Linked DNA regions of Homo sapiens: region 1 is linked to region 2. Evidence: fine-mapped expression QTL. A gene starts in region 2. The other region holds a variant in brackets. All regions are shown on one strand. Distances are between the middles of the regions.

Region 1 (13,923 bases), 72 kb after region 2:
TGTCTCACACACAGACGTCGATTTGTTTTATCCTCAGTAAATTGTTTTGCCACCATGTGGAGCTGCATCCTCTCGTCTCCCCTGGCCGTTGGTCTGAGGGTGACCCTCATCTGGGTAGGGCACAGGTGTGGGTGGTGCCAGCTCCAGGGCTCTGCAGGTGCCAAGTTCACCTTCTCCACAGTCCCCCAAGGAAAGGACTCAGGGAATTTGTCCTCCAATATCGGGAACCTAGCCGGGGCCGCAGGGCTGGCAGGAGCAGCATCAGTGCCGCGTGGTCCCTGTGGCGGTGAGAGTGAGGCCTCGCCTTGCAGACCTGGTGGTCACTGGAGCGGCTCGCTTGCTTCCTGGGGTGGCCCTGAGGAGGCTGGCTGTGCGCACCTGAGGCCAGCGGCATTGGGGCCTGCCTGGGAGCCTTACTGGGCTGTTGTCTGAAAACCAAACATTGGGAACAGAGTTACCAAGAATATGGACATGTCCGCAGGCCACATCCGGGCCCACGGGCTGTGACGTCAGCATCATCATTTGGGTGGCAGGTGAAGGTTAGCAGCCCTTAAACAAACATGCTCACAACAGAAACGTAAGAAAGGAAGCCTTTGCTGTTTTGCTGCCGTGTTGGCCGCTGTCATTTTCTGCAGAAGCCTTTGCTGTTTTGTTGTTGTGTCGGTCGCCGGCCGCTGTAATTTTCTGTGGAACGCTTTGCTGTCATGTTGGCCGTCTGTAATTTTCTGATCTTTGCGCCTTCACCCGTTCGCAGGGTGTGCTTCTAGTAGGGCAGGTTCCCATTTTGAGTGAGACATTTTTTAAAAAAAATATTTTTGTAGAGATGGAATCTTGCTATATTACCCACACTGGTCTTGAACTCCTGGCCTCAAGTGATCCTCCTACCTCAGCTTCCCGAAGTGCTGGGATTTCAGGCACGAGCCACCGTGCCTGGCCTTAAGCAAGACATGTTAAAGGCAGGCGTAGCCACAGGTGCTGAGTGTGTGGCTCTCACCTGTGACTCTCAAGGCTTCCCCACCCCATGGAGTCCTGGCTCTGTCCCAGCAACAGGGAGCATGGCAGTGCCCACAGGTGTGTGGATCCAGCACCACCAGGGCCCAGGAGTGGTGGTCCTTCCCTAAAAGGAATAACTCCAGTTTTTTTTTTTTTTTTGCTTTGTTTTGTTTTGTTTTTTGAGGCAGAGTCTCGCTCTGTCGCCCAGGCTGGAGTGCAGTGGCACGATCTCAGCTCACTGCAAGCTCTGCCTCCCGGGTTCACGCCATTCTCCTGCCTCAGCCTCCCCAGTAGCTGGGACTACAGGCGCCCACCATCACGCCCGGCTAATTTTTTTGTATTTTTAGTAGAGACGGGGTTTCACCATGTTAGCCAGGATGGTCTCGATCTCCCGACCTTGTGATCCACCCGCCTCGGCCTCCCAAAGTGCTGGGATTACAGGCGTGAACTCCAGATTTTTTAAATAACCTATTTTCATTGTGAAATTTGGGAAATTAAAGCACAAAGAAGAAAACAAAAACCATTAGCCGAGTGGTTAAGTTAATCTGTAACATTTCACAGCCCCATGATAGAATTCCTGCCGATGTGGAGCTCGGCCAAGGCAGTGAACGGCATCAAAACTCCAAACACTTTTAGTCCCTAGGAAGACCCTCGGTTAAGATTTCTCCCCAGAGTGCCCGGGCCCTTTAGTCCTACAAAACCAAGGAAAGGGAGGCAGCATAGCTGCATCCGCCAGGGGATGCCCACCACCCACCTGTCCCCCGGCTCTGCTCCAGCATCCGTCTGTCCTCTTTAGTGCCATATTTCACCCTCAGCCCCAGTGCAGGTGCCCGCAGCCAAGCCCACACCAGCTCTGGGGCACGCCTGTTCCAGTTGCATTTGGATACTTTTGCAGGTGTGAGAGTTGGGTGCTAAACGTTGGGAGGTTTGTTTATATTAAAATATAGAGGTAGGTGGGGCACAGTGGCTCACATCTGTAATCCCAACACTTTGAGAGGCCAAGACAGAAGGATCACTTGAGGCCAGGAATTTAAGAGCAGGTTGGACAACATAGTGAGATTCCCCATCTCTACAAAAAAAAAAGAAAAAGAAAAAATTAATGGGACATGGTGGCATGCACCTGTAGTCCCAGCTACTTGGCAGGCTGAAGCAGGAGGATCGCTTGACCCCTGGAGGTTGAGGCTGCCTTGAGCTGTGATGGCACCACTGCGATTAGGTGTGGTGGCTCACACCTGTAATCCTAGCACTTTGGGAGGCCAAGGTGGGTGGATCACCTGAGGTCAGGAGTTCGAGACCAGCCTGGCAAACAGGGTGAAACCCAGTCTCTACTAAAAATACAAAAAATTTAGCTGGGCATGGTGGTGGGTGCCTGTAATCCCAGCTACCCGGGAGGCTGAGGCAGGAGAATTACTTGAACCCGGGAGGCGGAGATTGCACTACAGCCTGGGACACAAGAGTGAAACTCCGTCTCAAAAAAAAATTAAATAAATAAAAATAGGCCGGGCACGGTGGCTCACACTTGTAATCCCAGCACTTTGGGAGGCCGAGGTGGGCAGATCACGAGGTCGGGAGATCGAGACCATCCTGGCTAACACGGTGAAACTCCATCTCTACTAAAAATATAAAAAATTAGCCGGGCGTGGTGGCGGGCACCTGTAGTCCCAGCTACTGGGCAGGCTGAGGCAGGAGAATGGTGTGAACCCGGGAGACGGAGGTTGCAGTGAGCCGAGATCGTGCCACTGCACTCCAGCCTGGGTGACAGAGCGAGACTCTGTCTCAAAAAAATGAAAATAAATAGGCCGGTTGTGGTGGCTCACTCCTGTAATCCCAGCACTTTGGGAGGCCGAGGGTGGTGGATTACCTGAGGTTAGGAGTTTGAGACCAGCCTGGCCAACATGGTGAAACCCCGTCTCTACTAAAAATACAAAAAAATTAGGCAGGCATGGTGGCACACTCCTATAATCCCAGCTACTCGGTAGGCTGAGGCAGGAGGATTGCTTGAGCCCGGGAGGTGGAGGTTGCAGTGAGCCAAGATCGTGCCACTGCACTCCAGCCTGGCTGACAGAGCGACTCTGACTCTAAATAAATAAATACATACATAGATACATGGTAACTTAGTTCCCTCTCTTTCTTTTGTATTGACACCAGATTTACTCAATACTGTTTTAGTTTGTCAGTCCAATAAGATGAGAAAATAAGTATGAGATGCAACTTGGAATTAAAGTGATCAAATGTTTGCTCTGACAGATAAGCTTCAGCACCTGTTAACTTGGAGAATCAAGTGAAACTCCACCGGCTTCATGTGGAAGCTCGTCAGGCAGCATCACAACATGTACATAACCCAAGAGCCGTTCTGTACAAGGTTCTCCTTAAAATATAATGGGAGGCCGGGCGCGGCGGCTCATGCCTGTCATCCCAACACTTTGGGAGGCCGAGGTGGGTGGATCATGAGGTCAGGAGTTCGAGACCAGCCTGGCCAACATAGTGAAATCCTGTCTCTACTAAAAATACAAAAATTAGCTGGGTGTGGTGGCGCACACCTGTAGTCTCAGCTACTTGGGAGGCTGAAGGAGGAGAATCACTTGAACCCAGGAGGCAGAGGTTGCAGGGAGCCGAGATGGCACCATTGCACTCCAGCCTGGGTAACAGAGCAAGACTCTGTCTCAAAAAATATATATATATACAGGCCAAGGCAGGCAGATTGCTTGAGCTCAGGCATTCGAGACCAGCCTGGCCAATATGGTGAGAATCGCATCTGTCCCCAAAGTACAAAAAAATTAGCTGGGCGTGGTGGCACACGGCTGTGGTCTCCGCTATTCTGGAGGCTGAGGTGGGAGGATCGCTTGAGCCTAGGAGGCGGAGGCTGCAGTGAGCTGAGATCACACCACTGTTCTCCAGCCTGGGCAACAGAGCAAGAACTTGTCTCAAAAAAAGAATAAAACTAAACTAAATCTGTGCAGAGCTCTGCCCACAGCCGATACATACGCTGCATTCCTTGAGGCCTTGCTGTCTCCGCTCCTTCTGTCTATGCCCCGTCCTGCCTCTCCATCCTCAGGGACAGGACCGGTGGCGAGGGGCCCCCGGCCACCCTGGGCTGGGACGGCATCTGCTGGGGCTGCTGGGTCAGGCCTGATGCTTTTTGTTTTCCCCAAGTGTGCAGCTGGTGCTGAGAGGTGATGGTGCTGCTTGTCCCCACACAGGAGGAGGAAGGTGAGGACGGCGATCCATCGTCAGGGCCCCCAGGGCCGTGTCACAAGCTGCCTCCCGCCCCCGCTTGGCACCACTTCCCGCCCCGCTGTGTGGACATGGGCTGTGCCGGGCTCCGGGATGCACACGAGGAGAACCCTGAGAGCATCCTGGACGAGCACGTACAGCGTGTGCTGAGGACACCTGGCCGCCAGTCGCCTGGGCCTGGCCATCGCTCCCCGGACAGTGGGCACGTGGCCAAGATGCCAGTGGCACTGGGGGGTGCCGCCTCGGGGCACGGGAAGCACGTACCCAAGTCAGGGGCGAAGCTGGACGCGGCCGGCCTGCACCACCACCGACACGTCCACCACCACGTCCACCACAGCACAGCCCGGCCCAAGGAGCAGGTGGAGGCCGAGGCCACCCGCAGGGCCCAGAGCAGCTTCGCCTGGGGCCTGGAACCACACAGCCATGGGGCAAGGTCCCGAGGCTACTCAGAGAGTGTTGGCGCTGCCCCCAACGCCAGTGATGGCCTCGCCCACAGGTGAGCGTGCGCCTGTCAGTGAGGAGGGGGCTTGGGGTGAGGCTGTGTCCCTGCAGAAGGCCAGAACCTCCTCATAAAACTCAGGAAACCCAGGACCGCCAGCAACAGGCAGGAGGCCCCTCTGCTGGAGGGAGTGGACTGGGCCCTGGGTCAGGGGAGTCCACGCCGTGACCTCAGGTGGGAGATGAAGGTTAGGGGACACAGCCCGACCCTGGCTCCCGCTCTGGCCCTCAGTCTTCAGGGGGTGAGCAGTGACTGCCTGTGTGTTTAGAGAGGAAACCAACCCCCAGACAGCACCAGGACAGCGGGCAGGGGACAGCGGGTGGGGGACAAGCTGGCGGGGGACAGCGGGTGGGGGACAAGCGGGCAGGGGACAGCGGGCGGCGGCTGCACCACGGGAGCCTTACAGATGCCAGGAGGGGGCCTCGCAGACGAGGAAGGGGCACAGCCTCGGCCACCGGAGGCCAGGGCGACTCGCAGCTCTTGCCCTTGCAGTGGGAAGGTGGGCGTGGCGTGCAAAAGAAATGCCAAGAAGGCTGAGTCGGGGAAGAGCGCCAGCACCGAGGTGCCAGGTGCCTCGGAGGATGCGGAGAAGAACCAGAAAATCATGCAGTGGATCATTGAGGGGGAAAAGGAGATCAGCAGGCACCGCAGGACCGGCCACGGGTGAGCACCCCGCACGCAGCCAGCCTCGTGGGGCCTGCTTTGCCACCCCTGGCCTCCGCACAGTCTCAGTGTGTGCAGCTTCAGTGTGTGTGGCGAGTGTCGCCTGTGACGCCTCACACTTCCCCTGTCACTGTGGCACCCTCCCGGGCACCCTCCAGCAGGCTCCCTGGGCCCCACGTCTCCAGGAGGAAAACCTCATGTCCCCAGAGAGAGGCTGTCCCTGAAGCCCCGAGCAGGAGGGAAGCTGACGTGGCTGTCACCCCGCAGGCAGCACAGATGCTCTCGGGAGGTCATTTCCAGTCTGACCCCCACATGAGAATGACCTAAGTCACCTGGGAAGGCCCCCACTGACCATCACTCCCGAGGTGCCCACGGAGGAGCCTTCTGTGCTCACACCTGGCCGTCCTGCTGAGGGCTGGGGAAGGCTCTTGTGTAGCGTGAGCACTTCTCTCCTCCCAGAAGGGCAGAGGCCTCGTGTGTGGTGTGGAGCAAGGCCCCGGCGCCACAGGTCCAGCCCCTGCCGCTGCCCGCCGGGCCGGTCTTGGTGTTGCTCCTGCTCGCCCCCTGGGCCTGCACTCGTGCCCGGAACCCAGCAGGAGGGCCAGGGGCCCCACAGAGGTGGTACCCCCCACCTTCCTGTCGTGGTCAGAGGCAGGTCAGCTGGGAAGTGTTGGCCCTGGTGGGTGGATGGCCCCAGCTTCCTCAGACTTAGGTCCTGATCTGCCCCCCACCCTCACCCAGGCCCTGGCCAGGACGCATCTCCCTCCACATTACTTGATGAGAACTTGTGAGGCAGCTGAGCGCCTGGGGCGTGGCCCTCCTGCCTGTGTTGGAAGCCTGTCCCGCAAGGCCTTGGGGTCCCCATCGGTGCTGACTGAGGTGGGGACGGGCTCATCGTTTTTCTGGGGCTCCCGAGGGAACAGGGGTGCACAGCACCTTGCCTGGCTCATTTTTTGTAGAGGGGGTCTCAGTGTGTTGCCCAGCTGGGTCTCAAGCTTTTGGGCTCAAGTGATCCTCCCACCTTGGCCTCCCAAAATGCTGGGACTACAGGCATGAGCCACCATTCCTGGCCTTCGAGTCTTTTTTTTTGAGACGGAGTCTAGCTCTGTCGCCCGGGCTGGAGTGCAGTGGTGCAATCTTGGCTAACTGCAACCTCCACCTCCTGGGTTCAAGCAATTCTCCTGCCTCAGCCTCCCGAGTAGCTGGGATTACAGGCGTGAGCCACCACGCCCGGCTGATTTTTGTATTTTTAGTAGAGACCGGGGCAGGGGGTGGTTGCCATGTTAGGCTGATCTCGAACTCCCAACCTTTGGTGATCCGCCTGCCTCGGCCTCCTGGAGTGCTAGGATTACAGGCGTGAGCCACCGTGCCCGGCCGAATCCTTTTTTTAAATAGCTGTATATACTAAATATTGCATGTCCCATATTTTAGGATAAGTATTAATACATTCCACTTTGAGACATACTTATACTTTTTATTCATTAAGACTTTTTTTTTAATTTTTTGCGACAGAGTCTCCCTCTGTCACCCTGGCTGAAGTGCAGTGGTGTAATCACACCGTTCACTGCAGTCTCAGCCTCCTGGACTCAAAGCTATCCGCCGGCCTCTAGGATTAGTATATAATTTGTATCCCAGTAAAGCTGTTAAAAATAAAATGTAAAAAAAGAAGCCTCATCCCAGCACTTTGGGAGGCCGAGGCAGGTGGATCGCTTGAGGTCCGGAGTTCGAGACCAGACTGGCCAACATGACAAAAACTCCATCTCTACTAAAAAAAATACAAAAAATTAGCCGTGTGTGGTGGCGAGTGCCAGTAATCCCAGCTACTCGGTGGCTGAGGCAGGAGAGTCGCTTGAACCTGGGAGGCGGAGATTGCAGTGAGCCGAGATCCGAGGTCGAGCCATTGCACTGCAGCCTGGGCAACAAGAGCAAAACTCTGTCTCAAAAAAAGAAAAAAAAAAAGTCTCCATGAAAGAATTTTTTTTTTTTTTTTTTGAGACGGAGTCTTGCTCTGTTGCCCAGGCTGGAGTGCAGTGGCCTGATCTCAGCTCACTGCAAGCCTCGCCTCCCGGGTTCATGCCATTCTCCTGCCTCAGCCTCAAGAGCAGCTGGGACTGCAGGCGCCCGCCACCACGCCCGGCTAATTTTTTGTATTTTTTTAGTAGAGGTGGGGTTTCACCGTGTTAGCCAGGACGGTCTCGATCTCTTGACCTCGTGATCCGCCCTCCTCAGCCTCCCAAAGTGCTGGGATTACAGGCGTGAGCCACCGCGCCTGGCCTTTTTTTTTTTTTTTTTTTTTTTTTGAGATGGGGTTTCGCTCCTGTGGCTCAGGCTGGAGTGCAACAGGCCAGTGTCAACGCACTGCAACCTCCACCTCCCAGGTTCAAGTGGTTCTCCTGTCTAACCCACCTGAGTAGCTGGGATTACAGGCACCCACTATTATGCCCAGTTAACTTTTTGTATTTTTGTAGAAACAGGGTTTCACCATGTTGGCCAGGCTGGTCTTGAACTCCTGACCTCAGATGATCCACCCGCCTCGGCCTCCCAGCGTGCTGGGATTACCGCGCCTGGCCATTTTTTTTTTTTTTTTTTTTTTTTGAGATGGAGTCTCACTCTTGCCTAGGCTGGAGTGCAGTGGTGCAATCTCAGCTCACCGCAACCTCTGCCTCCCAGGTTCAAGCGATTCTCCTGCCTCAGCCTCCCGAGTAACTAGAATTACTGGTATCCACCACCACACTTGGGTAATTTTTTGTATTTTTTGAGTAGAGTCATGGTTTTGCCATGTTGGCCAGGCTGTTCTTGAACTCCTGACCTCAGGCGATCCACCCACCTTGGCCTCCCAGAGTATTGGGATTACAGGCAAATGAGGGTTGGTTTTTTGTTGTCTTTTTTATTCCTGAGACTGAGCCTCACTCTGTCACCCAGGCTGGAGTGCGGTGGCGTGATCCCGGCTCACTGTAACCTCCACTTCCCCAGTTCCAGCCATTCTCGGGCCCCAGCCTCCAGAGTAGCAGGGATGACAGGCGCCCAGCTAATTTTGTATATTTAGTAGCGATGAGGTTTCACCATGTTAGGTTGATCTCGAACTCCCGACCTCTGGTGATCTGCCCGCCTCGGCCTCCCGAAATGCTGGGATTACAGGTGTGAGCCACCATGCCTGGCCGGGATGTTTTTATTGTGTGGTCTGTGGAGGACGTCCATGTGGCTTGGTGGCCAGGCCCCAGTGCCCCATCCCATCCTATCCCTCAAGGAGGCTGCCCTTGTGAGATGAGTGTAGCCCCACCAGGCCACCTGGCCAGGGTGTCGGCCACAGTCACAACTTGTTCTCTTGTTCCCCAAGGTCTTCGGGGACGAGGAAGCCACAGCCCCATGAGAACTCCAGACCCTTGTCCCTTGAGCACCCCTGGGCCGGCCCTCAGCTCCGGACCTCCGTGCAGCCCTCCCACCTCTTCATCCAAGACCCCACCATGCCACCCCACCCAGCTCCCAACCCCCTAACCCAGCTGGAGGAGGCGCGCCGACGTCTGGAGGAGGAAGAAAAGAGAGCCAGCCGAGCACCCTCCAAGCAGAGGTACGGCCGCGTCGTGGGGTGGGGTGGGTCTTGGGGGTTACCACAGCACCACTCCTGGGGCTGAAGCTCCCCGAGGCCTGAGGTCTTCAGGGGAAAAACGGCCCTCTGGGTGTCCCCCAGCCATACTGGGCCCTTCCATCCACTGAGAACCACTGAGGGGCCACGTGGCAGGCCACCCTGCGGTGGACGGAGGCTGGGGCTGGAGCTTTCACACACCCGAGGCCGCCGCGCTCATTGCTCTGGAGGCGGGGTCCCTCCTCAACCTGAGCCCAGTCTGCAGGGAGGCTGCAGGGCCCCAGTGTGTGGGGAACGCCGGTCCCCAGCCAGAGGCTGCTCGCTGCTGGGCAGCCTGGGCTTTAGGGCAGAGGTCCTGGAGGCATGGCGGCTGCCTCTTGACAGTTGCGTCCCAGGAGCCCTGAGTGGCTCTGCACGGTCGGAAAGCTACGTGGTTCTGAAAGCCGTGCAGATGTAGAAGTGTCGTCCTGGACGTCCAGCCCACAGCCCTCCTCGCTGTGTCCTCTTGTCATCCTGGATGTCCAGCCCACAGCCCTCCTCACTGTGCCCTTCTCTCATCCGGGACGTCCAGCCCACAGCCCTCCTCACTGCGCCCTCCTTGGTCTTCTGGGCTCCGTAGCCAGACCCTGTTCTCTCCCTAGGGCAGG[G/A]AGGCTTCTGTCTGGGCTGCAGGGAGGTCTCCCCTTTGTGTGGGCAGCATTTTCGCTCCAGGCCAGAACCTGGCTTCTCCATTTTCAGCTTGCTCATAAGGCCAGTTTTCTCGGCCATCCTGGGTCATTGGAATTCCCCACAGATCAGTGTCTCTTTGAGGGTCCTGGGAGCCTATAGCTCACCCAGGCCCTGGGGCTGTGGTCACAGAGGCCATGGTTGCCTTCAGAGGTCACCAGCTCCTCCTGTCCACCTTGGGTCACCTGGGGCCTGGGGTCCAGGCCCGCCTCCCGGGCCTCCAGCTTTGGGGCTGTGCCACTCCAGGGAGGCTGTGGCTAGGGGCCTTATTCTGCCGAACCAGCATCAGGGTTCAGACCCTTCCCAGCTGAAAGCCTGTGTGGTCTCAAGTCATTAAAGGTTCCTGAGCTTCTGCCAGGCTGTGAGCCTAATGACAGCTCTGGGGCCAGAAAGGGTCACAGTTACCTCAAACCCAAAGGGTGACCACTTTATGACCAAACATCTGTGACCCTGTGATCGTGTTCGGCCAACAAGGAGCTGGAGCCCCCTGCCATGCAGGAGCCTGGAGTGTGGTGCTCGGAGCCGGGGCGTGTGACTGGGCTGGCAGATGAGCCGTGGTGGGCATCGTGTGCAGCAGGTCCGAGGCCCTGGGCGTGTGTGGGCTCTCCTGCCGGGGCTTCCTGAGCCATCCTTGCTGGGCTGAGCAGGGGTCTCTCAGGTTGCGTCTGCGCTTTCCCCTGGTACCCGTGGCCCCACATGATGGCAGGGGATGCCCGCTGAGCCGTGGGACCACTCCCGCCGTTCTGAGACACGACCCTCCCGCCCGTTTGGCTGCTGGGCTCCAGCATCCCCCCATGGGGAAACCCAGAGTTGCTGGGTTTGTCCGTCCAGGGGATGTGGGTTTTTGCGAGAAGCTGTGGAGACGGAGTGAAGGCCCAGAGGCAGGTTGGGTGCTGGGCCCTGTCAGGATGTCAGAGTAGAAACCACCATCAAGGTCGCCCAGTGTACCCCGGTGGAGGTGTCCACGTGAGAGGAGCTGCTGTGCTGCCCCAGGATGGCCTCAGTTGTGGCGCCGGGGGGCCCTCAGCCTCCCTGAGGTGCAGACCGAGTTGCCACGCACGCCCCAGAGCCAGTGTCCACGCTATCGGTGGGGAATTCATGCCAAGAGACTGAAGGACAGACTCTCGGGACGAGATGTCATCCCACCAGAGGGGATGAGGTGGTGGGATCCCAGCACCCCTGATCGGAAGCTCCCCAAAGTGCGGTCCAGGGAACTCAGGGGGTTGGTGCCGGGATCATGAATGTGGGGCGCGCTGCAGTATCGGGTACCACCAAGGCAGGCCTAGGAGGGGACTCGGTGTCTTGTCTACCCTGCAAACTGGAGCCTGCGCAGGGTGGGTTGTTCGGGCCCTTCACGCTCCGTCCGTCCCTGCGCAGCAGCATTGGTCGAGGCTCCCTCCCCAGGGCTGGTGGCCGCCGGCACAGCCACCTTTGACGCGGGTTGTTCCCTAGGTATGTGCAGGAGGTTATGCGGCGGGGACGCGCCTGCGTCAGGCCAGCGTGCGCGCCGGTGCTGCACGTGGTACCAGCCGTGTCGGACATGGAGCTCTCCGAGACAGAGTACGTGCGTCCTGAGGGTCCTCCCGGTCCTGCCCACCCCAGCCCTGGCGTCCCAAGCCAGGTCCCATCGTAGAGCCGCCGTCCCGGGGCTTGAGCTCGGGTACCACGCTCAGAAGCAGCTGTGGCAGGAGAGGGTCCCGTGGCATCAGACTCGAAGCTGCCCGAGAGCCTTCTCCTGTCTCCATCAAAGGAGACGCTGACTGTCCAGCATGATGACAAGTGACCAAAAGGCCCGGCTGGAGGCCTGGGCACAGCCAGCCCCTGCATCCACACAGGTGTCACGGCCAGGCTTCCTGTGGGGCAGAGACCTGCCTGCGCCTCCACCCGGCTTGGAACGGGCCGGTCCCTGCCAGGCCTGACTTGACCAGGCTCGGGGCTGCAGGTGCTGAGGTGCCCGGGGTGCGTCTGCTTGCAGTGTGGGTCTCAGCCATGCGTGTCTGTCCAGCCCGTGCAGTCAGTGAGTCGGGGCTCTGCTCCCACCTACAATGCTGACTGCTCTGAACCCGTGAGAAAGGGCTCAGACCATGTGATCCCACATGGGCCGTGTCGACGGCGCCTTTATGTGCTCAAGGTGGCAGGAGGAGGGGGCACACCCCAAAAGGGGCCTTGAGAACAAGGGTCCCCCAGGCCTTGCCAGGCTTGCCCCAGATGCAGGTTTGTTGTGGCCCTCATCGTGTAGGCGGTCTTGGGGCAGCCTTCACCTGTCCCTGGGGCAGCCCCCACGTGTTGGCTCTTCTCTGATGGGCCTGGCTCCAGGAGGCTCCGAGGATGTGGCACTGGGAGGACGTCTAAGAGCGCACGTGGCTGGGGGCCTGGTGTGCAAAGAGGATGGTCACATGGCTCAGGTGGCCATGAGGCCTTCCTGCCCTGGTGTTGGCTCTGGAAGCCTCTGGTGCACCCAGCCAGGAGGAGGCCCAAGGGCTGAACCCCAGTGGGCCAGGGGCAGCTTCTGGAGTCACTTGAAGGACAGGTGGCGGCGGGGTAGCCGAGTGGGGGGTGCGAGAGCAACCAGGCCCCGCCCGTCATCCCGGCACGGCTGTGGAAGCACAGCACCTGTCAGAGGAGGGCCCGGCTCAGCCTGGGCAGGAGACGGTGCCAGCCCTGCCCCCTCTGAAGGGCCTGCTGGCCACCCCCGCCCCAGTCCTCCGACAAACTTCGCTGCGGGGTCAGGCTTATCCAGAAATCGTGCACAGTTCTGTTTGTCCAATCCCTGCCCTTCAGATGTTTTTAAGGTTTGGGGGCCGTAGGTCTTCCTGAGATAGGAGCCCTGCAGCCTGCCCTGCCATCCTAGAGGTGGGAGCTGCAGTGCACCTGGCAGCCAGGCCCTGGCCAGTCGAGGGTGGGGCTGTGAGGCAGCAGGGAGACCTTCGTGCTCCCAGTGAGCGGAGCCGACTCCACTGCTAGCGGACTAGATCCCAGATTGAGATGCTGTGCGGGGGCTGCGGGCCCCAGGTGTTTGAATGGGGTGCTGCTCACCCCTGCAGGCCTGCCCCGCCTTACACTGGCAGCCTGAGGCCAGCAGGAGGGACCCTGTGGGACCTCAGTCCAAAACCAGGTACCACCGCTGCATCTCTTTCCCCAGGACAAGATCGCAGAGGAAGGTGGGCGGCGGGAGTGCCCAGCCGTGTGACAGCATCGTTGTGGCGTACTACTTCTGCGGGGAACCCATCCCCTACCGCACCCTGGTGAGGGGCCGCGCTGTCACCCTGGGCCAGTTCAAGGAGCTGCTGACCAAAAAGGGCAGCTACAGGTGAGTGTGAGGGCTGGGGTGCCCCCTCCCCGCACGAGTATGTGGGTGCCCAACGGTATGAAAAAGAGGGTTTCCAGCCGGGCACAGTGGCTCACGTCCTAATCCTGGCACTTTGGGAGGCTGAGGTGGGCGGATTGCCTCAGCTCAGCAGTTCGAGACCAGCCTGGGCAACATGGTGAAACCCCGTCTCTACTAAAAATACTAAAGAAATTAGCCAGGTGTGCTACTTGGGAGGCTGAGGCAGAATTGCTTGAACTCGGGAGGCAGAGGTTGCAGTGAGCTGAGATCACGCCACTGCTCTCCAGCCTGGGTGACAGAGCGAGACTCTGTCTCTACCCCCGCCCAAAAAAAAAAAAAGAAGAAAAAGGGCTTCCGGCCATTTCAGCTCATGTCCCTCATCTGCAACTAAAGCCACTTCTCCAAGCCCTAGGCTGAGGGTGGCATCAGGCTTTCGGCCCCACAGGACTGAGAGGGTCCAAAGGGACCCCCGTCCAGGGCCCTCATCTTCGGGGTGGGAAAACAGAGGCCAGACCCCTAGACGACGATGGTCTGAACCTTGTGTTAGGCTCCCCTAGGCCGACCTTGTCTCCAGGCTCTGGACTCATGTGCTTTTGCCTGACTGAAAAGCCAAGCCCCCTCCTACCAAGGTTCATTCGCCCTGGGCCACTCAGCCCTGCAGGGCCCTGCGTGCAGCCAGCCTTGGAGGCTCCCGAGTGAGCACTGGGCGGTGAGCAGAGGGGGCCTGACCCCAAGAGCCTGGCAGAGCCTGGCGGGTGGTTCCCACCGTCCACAAGCCACTGTGCAAACACCCCATGACTGCAGATGTGGTGCTGAGGGAGGGCCCCAGTTGGGGTCACCTCCATGACGGGGCTCAGCCCTTGGGAAGCAGACACCCCACACCCGTCCACTTCCCCCCTG
Region 2 (14,614 bases):
GTGGTACTGCCTCCTGACCTTGGACCCCGCCCGCCGTGCCTACCCTGCTTGCTCCTGGGTGAGGAAGGGGCTTCTCTGCAGGGTCCTGGGTGAGGGGTGGGCCCTGAGGTTCAGCAGTGCCCCCAGCCTCCGCGTCGGGGTTTTGTGACCGCAGGCTGGCGTGGGTGGAGCTGCACGGACAACAGCACAGCCCAGACGGTGGCCCAGCAGAGGGCGGCCACACTGCTGCTCACGCTCAGCAACCTCATGTTCCTGGCCCCCATCGCCGTCTCAGTGCGGCGATTCTTCCTGGTGGAGGCCTCCGTCTACGCCTACACCATGTTCTTCTCCACGGTAGGCTGGCCCCTCCTGCAGGGATGTGGGGTGGGAGGGCAGGACCGCGCTCATGGAGCCTCCCCACAGTTCTACCACGCCTGCGACCAGCCCGGGGAGGCGGTGCTGTGCATCCTCAGCTACGACACGCTGCAGTACTGCGACTTCTTGGGCTCCGGGGCGGCCATCTGGGTCACCATCCTGTGCATGGCACGGCTCAAGACAGTCCTGAAATACGTGAGTGGCCCTCGACGTGGGGTGTGGGCTCCGGGGGAGCAGGGCCCCCAAGTGCAGCCTGCGAAAGGCAGTACCGTGGGAGAGGCCGGACCTGGCGTTGGGCACGGCCCCTGGAAACCTCACATCTCGGCCGAGCATGGTGGCTCACACCTGTAATCCCTAGGCCGAGCATGGTGGCTCACACCTGTAATGCCTTGGCCGAGCATGGTGGCTCACACCTGTAATCCCAACACTTGCAGGAGGATCCCATGAGGCCAGGGGTTCAAGAGCAGCCTGGGCTGTACAAAAAATCGAAAAGTTAGCCGAGCGTAGTGGTACATGCCTGTGGTCCCAGCCACTCGGGAGACTAAGGTGGGAGGATCGCTTGATCCCAGGCATTGGAGGCGTTGGAGTGAGCCGAGGTCACAGCACTGCACTCCAGCCTGGGTGACAAAAGAAAAGAAAAGAAACCTCATGTCTTCTGTGATGCCACACGGAGATGCGGGTCTGAGACCCCGCAGGCAGTTGTGAGGGGGCAGTGCCAGCTGTTTGGAGGATGCCAGGAAGGAAGGTGGTAGGCAGGGGAGGCCAGGCCCCCTGCCTTCGAGAAGCCCCCACCCATGCTCCCTGGGTCCTTGGGGCCAATGATGCTTTGGGGACTCTCTGTGGCAGCTGGCCCTGGCAAGGGGAGACTCATGCCCTGGGCTTGTGAGCTGCATGCTCTGCCCTCCCATCTGCTCTGGGAACTGCAGGCTGGGTACTGCCCCAAGGGGGTGCCCATGGGAGCCCCACAGCCAGGGCAGAGGGGAGGCTGGGAAGCACCAGGGTCCTGCAGGGCTGAGTGCGGGGCCTGAACCTGCAGATAGGCAGAGAACTGTAGGCTGTGGGCAGAGGTGTCTGATGGAGACTGGGGGGTGGGAGCCCCTCCCCATGGAACAGTGGGTGGGAGACTGAAGCCACCCTGATGGGGGACTTCTAGAAACCCAGTGGTACAGGGGGCTAGTGAGTGTGTGGGTGCAGAGCGGCCATATGCGTCTGTCCAGTTTGTGTGAGCATCGTCTAATCCCCCAGAGATGCCTGCCTGGCCACATTCACCTGTGGATGCAATACAGAAGCTGAAGGAGGGGCATGTCCCTGCCGGCTGGCAGAGCTAGTCAGAGGCTGGCAGAGCTGGTCTGAGGGTGGCAGCAGCTCCGAGGGGGCAGGCAGAGGTGCTGTGGGGCCGTGGGGTACGCGTGCTCCTGCTGGGCCTTGAGCCCTCAGAGACGTCCCTGCAGTCATCCCTGTGTCTTGCGCAGGTGCTGTTTCTTCTGGGTACACTGGTCATCGCCATGTCCTTGCAGCTGGACCGCAGGGGCATGTGGAACATGCTGGGGCCCTGCCTCTTTGCCTTCGTGATCATGGCCTCCATGTGGGTAAGGAGCCGGGCTGGCTGGCACTGCTGCCCAGGTGCTCGGAGAAGAGAGCCTGGCCCCTTGCTCTAGCCACGTTCCTGGTCCTGCTCCAACCAGTGAATGCCCATATCTGCTGGGGGTTGCCATGGCACCCACAGAGGCCCAGCATGGCTGTGTCCCTGAGGCCTGGGCCTGAGGACCAGTGGCCTTGAGCCCCCTCGAAGCAGCCCACCCTTGTCGTTCTGCTGCCCAGACCTGGGCAGGCCCCCAGTAACCACCGTATCTGGGCCCTGGGAGCTGCAGCCGCGGCCCCACCTGCACTGATACCTGCGTGGCTGTTTTCTCCAGGCTTACCGCTGCGGGCACCGGCGCCAGTGCTACCCCACCTCGTGGCAGCGCTGGGCCTTCTACCTCCTGCCCGGCGTCTCTATGGCCTCTGTGGGCATCGCCATCTACACCTCCATGATGACTAGCGACAACTACTACTACACCCACAGCATCTGGCACATCCTGCTGGCCGGGAGCGCAGCCTTGCTGCTGCCGCCACCTGACCAGCCCGCCGAGCCCTGGGCCTGCTCGCAGAAATTCCCCTGCCACTATCAGATCTGCAAGAACGATCGGGAGGAACTGTACGCAGTGACGTGACACTGGCCTGGGGACAGCTGCTGCTCTGATGACCTCTTCAGCCAGGAGCTGTATCGAGGGGGAGGCGCCTGGTCCAGCCCTGGACAGATTGATTTCCAGCTGAATAAATTGGCCTAGATACCCTCTTACTTCCTCCTACTGAGGAGAGGGCCACCCCTCCCTCACACGCACCTCTCCTCGCCAGCTGCCTGCTCGCTGCTGAGATCCCTCTGCAGATCCCAGCTGCTGTCTGCAGTGGCCCCTGGGGCCTGGGCTTGGTTACTTGGAGACCACAGGTGCCTGTGCGAGGGTGGGGCTGTGTGCTCTGCTGGCCTGTGGGTGGCTAGAGATGGGGAGAAGGACTCCCTATGGTCCTGTTCCCTGGCGAGGCTGTGGTGAGACCCATGGCGCCCAGGAGCCCTGAGCCCACCACTGGGGCCGGGAGCTGTGGACTCCGAGACCCCTGCTCCTGGCCCCTGTGTGGCCCTGATGCCAGCCTGCCTGGGGCATGGAGGATCCCCCTCTGCTGCTGTGGTCACCATAGGGACGGGAGACGGAGGTTTCCCCCAGAGCTGATGGGCACTGGGGATGCAGGCTCCCGCCCCGCCCCTCCCTTTTTCCTGGCTCTGGAGCCTTGGGTCCCTGAGAAGAGCTTCCTTGGACTGGGGTGCTCTGCTGCTCTGGGGGTTTGGCCCAGAAGGAACCCCTACCCAGCCCTGTCCACCCACCCCAGCGTTCCTGGGCCCCCCTCTGGGAGCTTCCTCTTGGTCCCAGGAGCTGCGGTGGTGTCTGCCCCCTGCACTGGGCTCTGTGCCCTGTGGGTGTTCAGGAGACTGGACTGTCTCTGCTCCTCATGCAAACCTTGTGGGGGAAGCAATGACCAGGAGCAGCACCTGGCCCCTCCCTGAGGCCTGTGAGTGTCTCGGATCCGCCCTGGAGAAGTGAGTGGCTGAGACCCGGGTGGGGCCCTCCTACCCTTGGCTCTGGGGGCTTCCCTTCTGGGTCTTGTCCGGGATATGGCCTTCCTGAAGGTCTTACCTCCCCCAGCCGCCCTGCACTTGACCACCAAAGCAATCTCTAAGCTTATAAAGGAGAAACATATATATATGGGGTTTTTTGGAGTAAAGGAAAATTCTAAGATATTAAGACATATTTTTATGTAGATCTGATCTATCTGTGTTTGGTGAATTTAATATTCTACATTGATTTTTCAAACTAAACGAGTTTTTACATTTTTTCTGTGCTCCTTCCCGGGTAGGGTAAGTGGGGCCCGGGAGAACAAGCACCGCCCCGCCCGTGCCGCCCTTCGCGGAAACGCCGGGGCCGCACGTAGCTAACGGTGCCTTGAGCTGCTGCTGCTGTATGTGGGGTGTTTTTTACGGTCCCTAAAGACGGAAGCGGGGCGGGACGAGGGGGTAGACGGATGGCTTTTACAGCCAGTCAGCGGTGGGAGGAGGGCCAGGCGCGGCAGATCGGCTTCCGGTTCCGGTGGGCTCTGAACCCTGAAAGGTGGGCGCGGGCAGGTGGGGTGTGGGGGGGCGCCGGGGCAGAAGGGGAGGGGCAGGTGGGTGCGGGACAGGGGCCGGAGTGAGAACCGGGGGCCGGGGTAGGGGGTAGCGGGTGAGAGCCGGGGGCCGGGGTAGCGGGTGAGAGCCGGGGGCCGGGGTAGCGGGTGAGAGCCGGGGGCCGGGGTAGCGGGTGAGAGTCGGGGGCCGGGGTAGGGGGTGAGTGCCGGGGGCCTGGCCAGGCTGCGACTGACTGCGAGCCCCCACCTCCCGCCAGGCTCGCGATGCCTCTACACAAGTATCCCGTGTGGCTCTGGAAGCGGCTGCAGCTGCGGGAGGGCATCTGTTCCCGCCTGCCCGGCCACTACCTGCGCTCCCTGGAGGAGGAGCGGACGCCCACTCCCGTGCACTATAGGCCTCATGGGGCCAAGTTCAAGATCAACCCCAAGAACGGGCAGCGGGAGCGTGTGGAGGACGTGCCCATTCCCATCTACTTTCCCCCCGAATCCCAGCGGGGGTTGTGGGGCGGCGAGGGCTGGATCCTGGGCCAAATATATGCCAACAACGACAAGGTGGGTCCGCAGGCGGCCTTCAGGGGCTCCTCTCAGGGCTTGGCTGTGCCGGCTCTGTGCCGGACGCCCGGGGTACCTGGAGAGACCTGGGTGGGCCCTGGGGATTACAGCCTGGAGGCGACACATCTCCGGCAAAGGAGCACGCTGAGTGAAGAACCGCAGTTCTGGCAAACAGGACTGATAAAGTAGGGGTGAGGTGGGGTGACTCAGGCCGGGGGAGCAACCAGAGGCCGTGGGGAGTCGGGGTAAAGTTAGGATGGGGAGGAGGCCTGTGTGATGAGCAGAGCAGGTGGGAGAGGCGAGCAGAGCAGGTGGGGGAGGCGAGCAGAGCTTCGAGGCTGCTTGTGGTGGACTTCCTGGCGGGACTGCTGAAGCCTGTGGGGAGACTTGTGTCACCTCCAGGTTGGAATGTGACAACCTGTAAACTGTGGGGTCGCACATGTTTCTGAAACACATGCAGCAACCATGTGACCAGGGCGGGAACGCCCAGCTTGTTGGGGAGCAGCTGACTTCTGGGTACACAGTCAGGACCCGGGTCGGGCTGGGGCGGCACTGGGCTGGGGGCCGGCCCAGTTAGCTCTAGGTCCCCAGTCTGACAGCAGTGGTTCTGTGATGGAGCCTCCGGGGGGGAGGTGAGGGCAGTTGCCTGGGCCCCCCTTGGTATGTAAGAGAAAGCAGCAGTACTCATGGAGGCTCTGTTGCACCCTCAGCTCTCCAAGAGGCTGAAGAAAGTGTGGAAGCCACAGCTGTTTGAGCGAGAGTTCTACAGTGAGATCCTGGACAAGAAGTTCACAGTGACTGTGACCATGCGGACCCTGGACCTCATCGATGAGGCTTATGGGCTCGACTTTTACATCCTCAAGGCAAGCGGGGTGGGGCGAGTCAGTGCACACAGGGTCTGGGATGGGCCAGTCAGACTCACGGGAGCCCCAGGTCAGCATCACACCGGGGCACGCTGACATCTGCACAGGAGGGTCACTGGGAAAGCGTGAGTGGGGCCATGCCCCTTTCTGGCCAGCACCAGTGGGGTTTCCTGCCTTCAGGAGAGGCTGTCGCTCTGTGGGTGGCTGACTTGCCCGTGGGGCCTGAGCGAGCACAGCCGCCCCTTTCCCTGCACTTGGACTTGCTTCTGTGCTGATCCCACCCCCCAGGCTGGGGTGCTGAGGCGGCCCCACCCGGGCCTTCTCTGTCCTGTCCTGGGACCACCAGCGGCTAGAGAGGAGCCAGGTGGGTTGGCTGGAAGGGTAGGTGGGGCCCTGCCACCAGCACCTGGCCCCATGTGAGCCTTCTGCCAGACCCCGAAGGAGGACCTGTGCTCCAAGTTTGGGATGGACCTGAAGCGAGGGATGCTGCTGCGGCTTGCCCGGCAGGACCCCCAGCTGCACCCCGAGGACCCCGAGCGGCGGGCAGCCATCTACGACAAGTACAAGGTGAGGGTTTCCGTCCCGCTCCCTACACCTGGGGACTCGTGGCCCGGCCCTGGGCCTCACTGCCCTTTCCATCTCTGCCTGCCTAGGAATTTGCCATCCCAGAGGAGGAGGCAGAGTGGGTGGGCCTCACGCTGGAGGAGGCCATTGAGAAGCAGAGACTTTTGGAGGAGAAGGTGAGTGTGTGAGCACCAGCCGATGCTGCCTGCCCAGAGCCTGGTGTTCAGGGTCTGGGAGTGTGCTGCCTTGGAGAGAGCCTGCACAAGGGGCTGGTGCACTGGGTGGGCTTGGGGAAGAGCTGCTGCTCTGCATTGCCCACCCAGAGGAGCATGGCCCGCTCCCTCCCCTCCAAGTCCCCACCCTGTTCTGTCCCAGGACCCTCAGTAGGAGGAGTGGGTTCCTGCACTGAGGGTTTGCTCGGCCACCAGCATCCCAGGGTCTGGAGCCTGAGGTAGCTGTCAGGACAGGGAGCCCCTGATGGCATGGCAGCTGGCTGCCCCTATTCCCTCTGTTTATCCATGACCACAGGGATGGGACAGGGGTATGTGTGTGCCTCCGGCATCCCCAAGGGAGGGGGTTCCTCATCTCACCGACAGGACTCTGCCCTCCAGGGCCTCTCATGCCCCGGTTCCTCTGGGCGGCAGCTGCTGATCCCATCCCCGTCGGAACTCCAGCTGCCCTGGGCTTCCCTGGCCTCACCATGAGCCCCTCTCTCCTTCAGGACCCTGTACCCCTGTTCAAGATCTATGTGGCGGAGCTGATCCAGCAGCTGCAGCAGCAGGCACTGTCAGAGCCGGCGGTGGTGCAGAAGAGAGCCAGTGGCCAGTGACCACACAGCTCCTCCATGCCTGACCAACAGGCCCAGCTTTCCCTGCCAGGCCCTTTGCACTGAGGACACAGATCCCGGGGAGCTGTGAGGGCCACCGGTGGGCAGTGGGTGGATCCTGGTTTCGTGTGCTGCCCATGCACCTTCCAGCCCGGGGCCAGCTTGGCAGGGATCCCCAGGAGGCCTGGGCCGCCCAGAGGCTCCTCTCAGGCTGGGCCCCGACGTTTGCGGCAGTGTTCCTTGTGCCCGTGGGGCCGGGAGCGAGTAAAGTCTGGGCCAGGCTGTGTGTGTGTATCTTTGCTTTGAGGACTGGTGTTCTCTTTGGGGATCCTGATCCTGTCACCCCTGCCCTTGCTGCCCCTGAGACCTCGGATGAGCCGTGGGCATTGACTCTGGCTGTGCCCGTCCCCCGGTGAGCTGCAGAGAGCGAGGTTCAATTCTGTGTTTTGTGTTTTTTTTTCTTTTCTTTTTTTGAGACGGAGTCTTGCTCAGTCACCCAGGCTGGAGTGCAGTGGCACGATCTGGACTCACTACAACCTCCACCTCCAGAGTTCAAGTGATTGTCCTGTCTCAGCCTCCTGAGTAGCTGGGATTACAGGCACCCCGCTATCATGTATGGCTAATTGTATTTTAGTAGAGAAGGGGTTTCACCATGTTGGCCAGGCTGGGCTTGAACTCCTGACCTCAGGTGACCCACCTGCCTCAACCTGCCAAAGTGTTGGGATTACAGGCGTGAGCCACCTCCCCTGGCCGTATTCTGTGTCTTTCTTTCCTCTGGTAGAGGGTCTGGTGTAGCTGGGGGCATCCAGGGGTGCAGCCGGATGATGCCCATTCCCTCTCCATTGCACATTCCTGCCCTTCTCGAACATTCTTCAGAGCAGGGCAAGGGAGGCTGTGGTCTGGCTCTGCAGGTACTGGAAGGAACCAGGAGGGGCAGGCCCTCAGAGGGCCGTGCTGGTGCAGCTGCCTGAGTCAGGAGCCTCTCCCTGGTCAGCACTGTTGTGGCGAGTGGTAGAGGAGGTGGGGGCGACACGAACTTGGGGACCTGCGACCTTGGTGTCCCCTCCTGCTACCTCCACCTGACCTGCAGGGTGGAGGTTTGGCCAGCGGGAAGCCGGGCTGTGCACCCTAAGGCATTTCCCGCCCTGAGGTTTTGGGGGTACCTGACCCTCTCCCCCAACCCTTACCTGGAAATCCTGATCCTCCGGACCCATTCGGTTTTCCCAGGGAGCACAGAGGGAGGGCTCCCCCAGCTGCATGTGCAGAATGACAAGGGGGGGTTTATGTCCCCTGAGCCTAAGCCAGCCCCAGCTGGTGGCAGGATGGGGTGAACTGGAGGCAGCTGCCTGACGTGGGCCTGCTGGCTGATTGAGGGGCCCCTGGCTCCCAAGGGGGCTGTGGCAGAGTCCAGAGGGAGTCTGCAGTTGGCCCTGCTGGACTGCAGGGGAGCACGTGGCTCCCGGGGCCGCAAGGGGTCCCTGGGGTCAGGACCTGCCTGGTTCAGAGCCCTGGGAGGGCCCCCGAGGTCTCTTTCCACACCGGGCACCTCTGCCGACATGTCCTGCTGCTCCCCACACCAGTGCCTTCATGTGATGCCCCTGCTCTGTGAACGACCTTGAAAAAAATTTTAGGCCAGGCACGGTGGCTCACACCTGTAATCCGAGCACTTTGGGAGGCCGAGGCGGGTGGATCACGAGGTCAGGAGATAGAGACCATCCTGGCCAACACGGTGAAACCCCATCTCTACTAAAAATACAAAAAATTAGCTAGGCATGTTGACACATGCCTGTGATCTCAGCTACACGGGAGGCTGAGGGAGGAGAATCGCTTGAACCTGGAAGGCAGAGCTTGCAGTGAGCTGAGATTGCACCACTGTACTCCAGCTTGGGTGACAGAGCGAGACTCTGTCTCAAAAAGAAAAAAAAAAAGGCCGGGCGCAGTGGCTCACGCCTGTAATCCCAGCATTTTGGGAGGCCGAGGCGGGCGGATCACGAGGTCAGGAAATCGAGACCTAACACGGTGAAACCCCATCTCTACTAAAAATACAAAAAAGTTAGCTGGGCATGGTGGCAGGTGCCTGTAGTCCCAGCTACTCGGGAGGCTGAGGCAGGAGAATGGCATGAACCCGGGAGGTGGAGGTTACAGTGAGTGGAGATCGCACCACTGCACTCTAGCCTGGGCGACAGAGCGAGACACCGTCTCAAAAAAATAAATAAAAATCATACCGGGCACTGTGGCTTACACCTATAATCCCAGCACTTTGGGAGGCTGAGGCAGGCAGATCACCTGAGGTTAGCAGTTCAAGACTAGTCTGGACAACATAGTGAAACCCCCATCTCTACTAAATACAAAAATTTAGCCGGGTGTGGTGGCGCACACCTGTAATCCCAGCTACTTGGGAGGCTGAAGCAGGCGAATTGCTTGAACCCGGGAGGTGGAGGTTGCAGTGAGCCACGATTGCACCATTGCACTCCACCTGGGCAACAAGAGCAAAACTCTGTCTCAAAAAAAAAACACTTTATGAAAAACAGACAGTGCTCAGTCAGCTCTGTGGGGCCATGAGGCTCAGCCCAGCTGCCCACAGCATGAGTGCTGTTCCGTGCCCCAGCTCTAGCCAGAGTTGGGATGTTGTGGCCACGCCCTGCCCTGCACAGTTCCCGTGTTCAGCTGTGAACTTAAGCCAAGCCCCCTCCAGCCCCTCGGCCTGCCCCTGACTCCCTGATGGTGTGTGTGTCCAGCACCTCCCAACTCAGGCCTCGGTGGCTGCCCCTCACTCACCACCTGCTCTTTCCCACCCCAACCAAGCCCCACGGTAAGCAGGGCTCCTGCCAAGGCCTGTAGGGCTTCCTGGGTCAGACTCTGGGGGCCCCAAGAAGTTAGGGGCCAGGCTTGGCAATGGGCTGGTAGGCGCTGGCCTCGGTCCCCCTGTCGGCCATGGTGGCACGTGCTTATCAGTGTGTCCTGACTTGTGTTGACTCAGGGTTGTGGGTTTGGGACCAGGCTACCAGCTGGCCAGTGGGAGAAGCTGCATTTGGCCTCAGCAGGTTACCTCCTCTGCCAGTCACCTCGATGGAACCCATGGCTGTTTAGTCCTCCCGCAGGGGAGGCCAGGCCAGACTGAGGTGGGGTCTGGGTGTGGCCAGGGCCCTGACAACTTTCTGGTCAGAGGCCACAAAAGTCCTTGACTGAGAAAAAGGTAAGAGGCCTTCCGTAAATGCCGGACCCATCCCTCAAGACCAAACCGTGACTCAGGTCTGGGACAGACCCAGCAGCTGGATCCAGCATGCTATTCTGCCTTCTGGGTTGTGGGGAGGGGTCCCAGGGACTGTACCGGCTCCAACATGTGTGTGGGGAACTGAGAACTGAGCTGGGAGCCCGGGCAGCCAACCTGGGAATGGCTGCTGGCCACCCCTCCCCGCCCTCCCCGCCCTCCCCACGCCCACCCCGCCCTCCCCGCGCCCACCCCACCCCTTCCCTGCCCTCCCTATGCCCACCCCACCCCTTCCAGAGCCAGGCCGGGCTGGGGCCACCAGACCCTCCTTCTGCCATCCTCACCAATCACACCTGTCAGGCTCCTTCCTGAAGTGTTGGACTCCGTCTCTGAGAACGGCCAGTTCTCCCTCACTGAGGCGTGCAGACCCTCAGGCACCTGGAGTGGGAGAGGGATCTGTGCAGAGCAAGATCAACCCCACAGGAGGCAGAGCTGCCCTGGGCCGGCCTGCACCAGCCCCAGCCTCTCGGAGCCCTCAGGGGCCAGGAGTTCCCCACGCGTGTCCCAGGCTTGGCAGAGGCCATGTGTTTCCATGACAACAGTCAGCCGCGGTGTCGGGCAGAGAATGGGCTGTGGACCTGAGGGTGGACTCCGGGGTGGACCCTCACGGCTATGGGCAGGGATCCCTTGGGGGTAGAAAACTGGAGGACTGGAAGGGGTGTCAGTGACCCCATCACTCCACATAGAGACGGGGAAGCCAAGGCCAGGAAGGGTAGGGTGGAGTGGATGTGAGGCTGGCCTGAGGCACCCAGTCACAAGTCCATGTCTGACCCCTGACCCCAAGGGTCTCGCCTGCTTCCTGAGTCCTGCTCAGGTGCACAGAGCAGCAGGATAGTGGAGGGAAGGGCATGGAGAGCGGGCGGGCCCTCTGGGTCGCTTGGCAACTCTGCTCCTGTCCTGTGCCCCCGTCAGGGTGCTGGGAGCCCAAGGGAGCTGCCGGGAGACCACTGTGTGTCCCGCGGGCCTGCTTAGGGCTCCGCCTCCACCTTCAGTCCTTGGCCGCCCTCGCCCTCTCACCAGTGCCCGTCTGTAACTCCAGCCCTCTGCTGGCCCCAGGCACGGGCTGGATTGTGTGGGGCTCCCAGGCTCCCTTGAGTCCCTGTCCCTCTGACACCCACCAGCCACCCAAGCTGGAACCCTGGCCACATGGCCACACCCAGCAGCCTGGGCTCCCGTGCGGTCCTGGCTCCCTCTGCCGCAGCGCCCCGCAGCCCTCCCTAGGCGGGCTCCAGCCTTGGACCATCCTCCCTAACCACTGCCTGCTGTCCTGGGATGGTGTCCCTACCCACATCCTGTCCCCAGACAAGCTGGTAGCTCTGAGCATGGCATGGGAAGGGCTTCAAGGCCGGGTTCCATCCTGGGACAGGCGGCTCACAACCAGGCCAGTGCGAAGAAGCTTGGATCCGGACCCAGAGTCCTGGGGGAGCAGCCGCGGCCCGAGACCCCCGGCGCCCAGAGTCCTGGGGGAGCAGCCGCGGCCCGAGACCCCCGGCGCCCAGAGTCCTGGGGGAGCAGCCGCGGCCCGAGACCCCCGGCGCCCAGAGTCCTGGGGGAGCAGCCGCGGCCCGAGACCCCCGGCGCCCAGGCCCATGCCAAGCCCGGTTCCCTGGGACTGGCCCCGAAGTCGCTCTCTTGAAGGTGGATCCCCATGGACCATGCTCCAGGCTCCCCTGGATCCCGGGTCCCTCTGATGGCCTTGGTAGTGGCCTCCCTGGGCTGCAGCAGCCCAAGGCTCTCGCTTGCTCCTTGCAGTCCTGCAGCTGTTCATCACCAGATTCTGCTCATCGGGTGCTGGGCCTGGGCCAGGAAGTGGGACTCAGCTTCCCGGGCTTAGGGGAAGCCTTCGAAGGGGTCTTGGCCAGGCAGTGCTGCTGTCAGAGCGCGTGGACAAGCCAACACTGTTTCTGGCTGTCACGGGGCTGGGGGCAGGGGGTGGTTCCGGGGATGCTCAGTGCCCTGCAGTGCCCAGGATGTCCACGGGTGACGGTTGAGAAGCCTCGTCTCCAGACATACGGGAAAGCTTTGCCAGGGGCCAATGCTGGTGCGCCCTGGAGGGAAGAGGCGTTCTTGGGACGCAAGAGGGCACTGCAGCCCAGGGGAGAGCGGGTGCAGCCGCAGGTGTGTGACTGATGGCGAGACGGTCTCCTCAGTGTGGCCAAAGACCCAGAGTCCTGCCCAGTGGGAACCCAAGGTCCAGGGAGCAAGGCCTCGGGAGGGGCCTCAGGGGGCTTGTGAGACGGGACTGTGTGAGCACGTGCACGTATTCCACAGGCCGCAGCTAACGAGAGGGTGGCGGAGTGGACTGTGGGCGGAGAGAAAGCTGGCAGCCTTTGCCGTCTGAGGTGGGCGAGAGCTTGGCTCTGCCCAGTGGGGCTGGGAAGTTCTCCCTGCTCCCGCTTCCACTGCTCCCACCCTTTATTTTCCCACCAGACTGGGCCTGGCCTTCAGCCCCTGAGGCAAGCCTGACCTGAAGTCCTCCTCTCAGCAGGGGCTGCAAGGCCAGTGCTTCTGCCTCTGCTGGGGGTAAGGCAGGGCACAGAGTGGCCCCGGACAGGCCAGGAGAGGGGCAAGGACCCCACACACTGGACATGAATGAAACACACGGAAACGCTTAACAGCTGTTGTGGGGACAGCTACCATGCAGCCATGCCCACCTCGTTCCTCCAAGGGGACCCTGGCATGGGCCCACGGGCAGTGCCGCCTGCTCCCTCAGCAGTCAGGAGTGGCTCGGGGGTGGCGGTGTCTAAAGGGGCTGGTTGCCATGGCTACCATAGGGTTCTGAGGCCCGTCATCTGGTCCCTGCCTCAGCCAATCGGCGGCAGGAGCCCGAGCTGCAGCCCAGAGTCACGCTTCTGCCTCCCAGCCACACAGTGGCCAAGAGCAGGGACCTGCTTCCCAGAGTGGCTGAAAGTGCTCGGACGGACGGCCAAGCCCATCATGGCGGACAGCGGGACGGTGGGGCGTGAGCAGGCACACGGAGCCAGGCAGGTGAGGTAAGCCGGGCAGGCGGCCGGGCGGACAGGTGGACGCGCCTCCTCTGCCCATTGTTCTCGCGGCTGCGGCCCTGCCCTCGGCCCACCCCACCCTCGAGTGCAAGCCCACACGCAGCGCCCGCACCCTCACCCTCAGACCCTCTCCGGGTGTCCCGAGGAAGGGTCAGGGGAAGAGACAAAGGGAGCAGGGTGAGGCAGGATGAATCCTGACGGACCTCGGACCCCAAAACCGCCCCGGTGGGTCTTCCACGTCAGGTTTCACATGGAGGCGGCATCAAAGACCCCCGACTGATCCAGGCCGGCGTCCCGGCCGCCACTCCAAGGTTAGGAGACAAGCCATGTCAAGTCGGTGCCGTTTAAGCAGCATTTTTTCGAGGAGAAAAAAAAAAAAGAAACAGAAGCGATATAAAGAAAAAAAATGTCCACCTATGACACGGGAAGCGGCCAGCCCGATGGATCAGAAGCGCCAAATCCCATTACTCGGGACTTCAGGGACAGGCCCTGCAAGGGCAGCTGCGATTAAGAGCTTGTCAATGGACTCTCCTTTAGAGATCAAAGCGGGGCGTGCTTGTGTGTGTGTGCGTGTGCACGTGTGTGCGCGTGCACGCGTGTACGTGCAGGAGCGGACACTGTGGGGTGACAGCACAGAGGTCGTGCACCGCAGCACCACGGGGCCCATACGTCGCCGACGCGGCCACCTCCACACTGCTTGCGTCCTTGCTGCCGTGTGCGACGTGTGTGGACGCGGCTGGGGGCCTGGGCCGGGTACCTGGTCCCAACACCTGCACCCTTTCAAAGGCCTCCACCTCCTGCTAGAGGCCGTGCCTTCCCCAGGTTCTGCCCAGAGGAGCCCGCAGGGGCCGAGCTGGGTGTGAGGACAGCCGTGGCTGCGTCTCCTCCCCCCGACCACGTCCTGCTGCCCACAGAGGCCTTGAGCTCTCAGTTGGCCTGGCAGGCGCGCCCTGGGGGTTCAAAGCTCCCGTTGACACGATTGTTAGGTTATTAGGTAAACTCTGAGACGTAAATCTTTTAATCCACTGTGGCTAATCCGGTTCACTTTTGTTTGCCACGACAGACGCCGCGGCGACAAAGGGGCCTGGGGCCCAGCACACACAGTCACACGCTCAGAACTTGGCCGCGGCCTCAGGGTTCCTAGGCAGTGGAGAGAGACATCTTGGGACAGCCAAGCAGAGGGAGGCGGCGGAGGGCACAGGTGGGCGGGGGCGCAGGTGGGCCGGGGCAAAGGCAGCTGCCCGCTGGGGGCCGCACTTCCTCACCTCCCATTTAATGTCCCCTTGCCAGCTCGAGGGGGAACCGCTGGGCACTGGGGTGTGCAGGTATCGGGGCCGCTGGGGATAGTGGGCAGAAGGACAGATGAGCACCAACGGGGGGGCGGCAGCGCCCGGAGAGGCGTGTGGGATGGAGGCCGTCAGGGCAGGGAAGGGCGTTCAGGTGAGGGAACAGCAGGGACAAG

The links. PIP is the estimated chance that this variant, and not a neighbour inherited with it, causes the effect. A credible set is the group of variants that fine-mapping cannot tell apart.
Region 1: its variant is the best candidate, but not a certain one, in a credible set for the expression of MRPL28 in whole blood (TOPMed, PIP 0.75).

What each region holds. Positions count from the first base shown.
Region 1 is chr16:288,522-302,444 of GRCh38, reverse strand. It overlaps AXIN1 (axin 1), which reads left to right. Exons shown (of 11, transcript NM_003502.4): 6 at 4,194-4,723; 7 at 5,219-5,389; 8 at 8,727-8,957; 9 at 11,148-11,255; 10 at 12,838-13,005. Among named protein-coding and RNA genes, the nearest start is that of PDIA2, 12 kb to the right of the region's middle. The variant G/A (reference allele first, on the strand shown) is at 9,620.
Region 2 is chr16:359,940-374,553 of GRCh38, reverse strand. It overlaps MRPL28 (mitochondrial ribosomal protein L28), which reads left to right and starts at 4,016. Exons shown (of 6, transcript NM_006428.5): 1 at 4,016-4,055; 2 at 4,329-4,623; 3 at 5,334-5,486; 4 at 5,919-6,053; 5 at 6,140-6,226; 6 at 6,772-7,585. The coding sequence starts at 4,336. The coding sequence ends at 6,879. PGAP6 (post-GPI attachment to proteins 6) reads left to right here. Exons shown (of 13, transcript NM_021259.3): 10 at 155-333; 11 at 403-549; 12 at 1,827-1,943; 13 at 2,271-3,766. The coding sequence ends at 2,567. RefSeq lists enhancers at 1,715-2,286, 9,834-10,340, 10,341-10,847, 10,848-11,355, 11,984-12,831 and 1 more.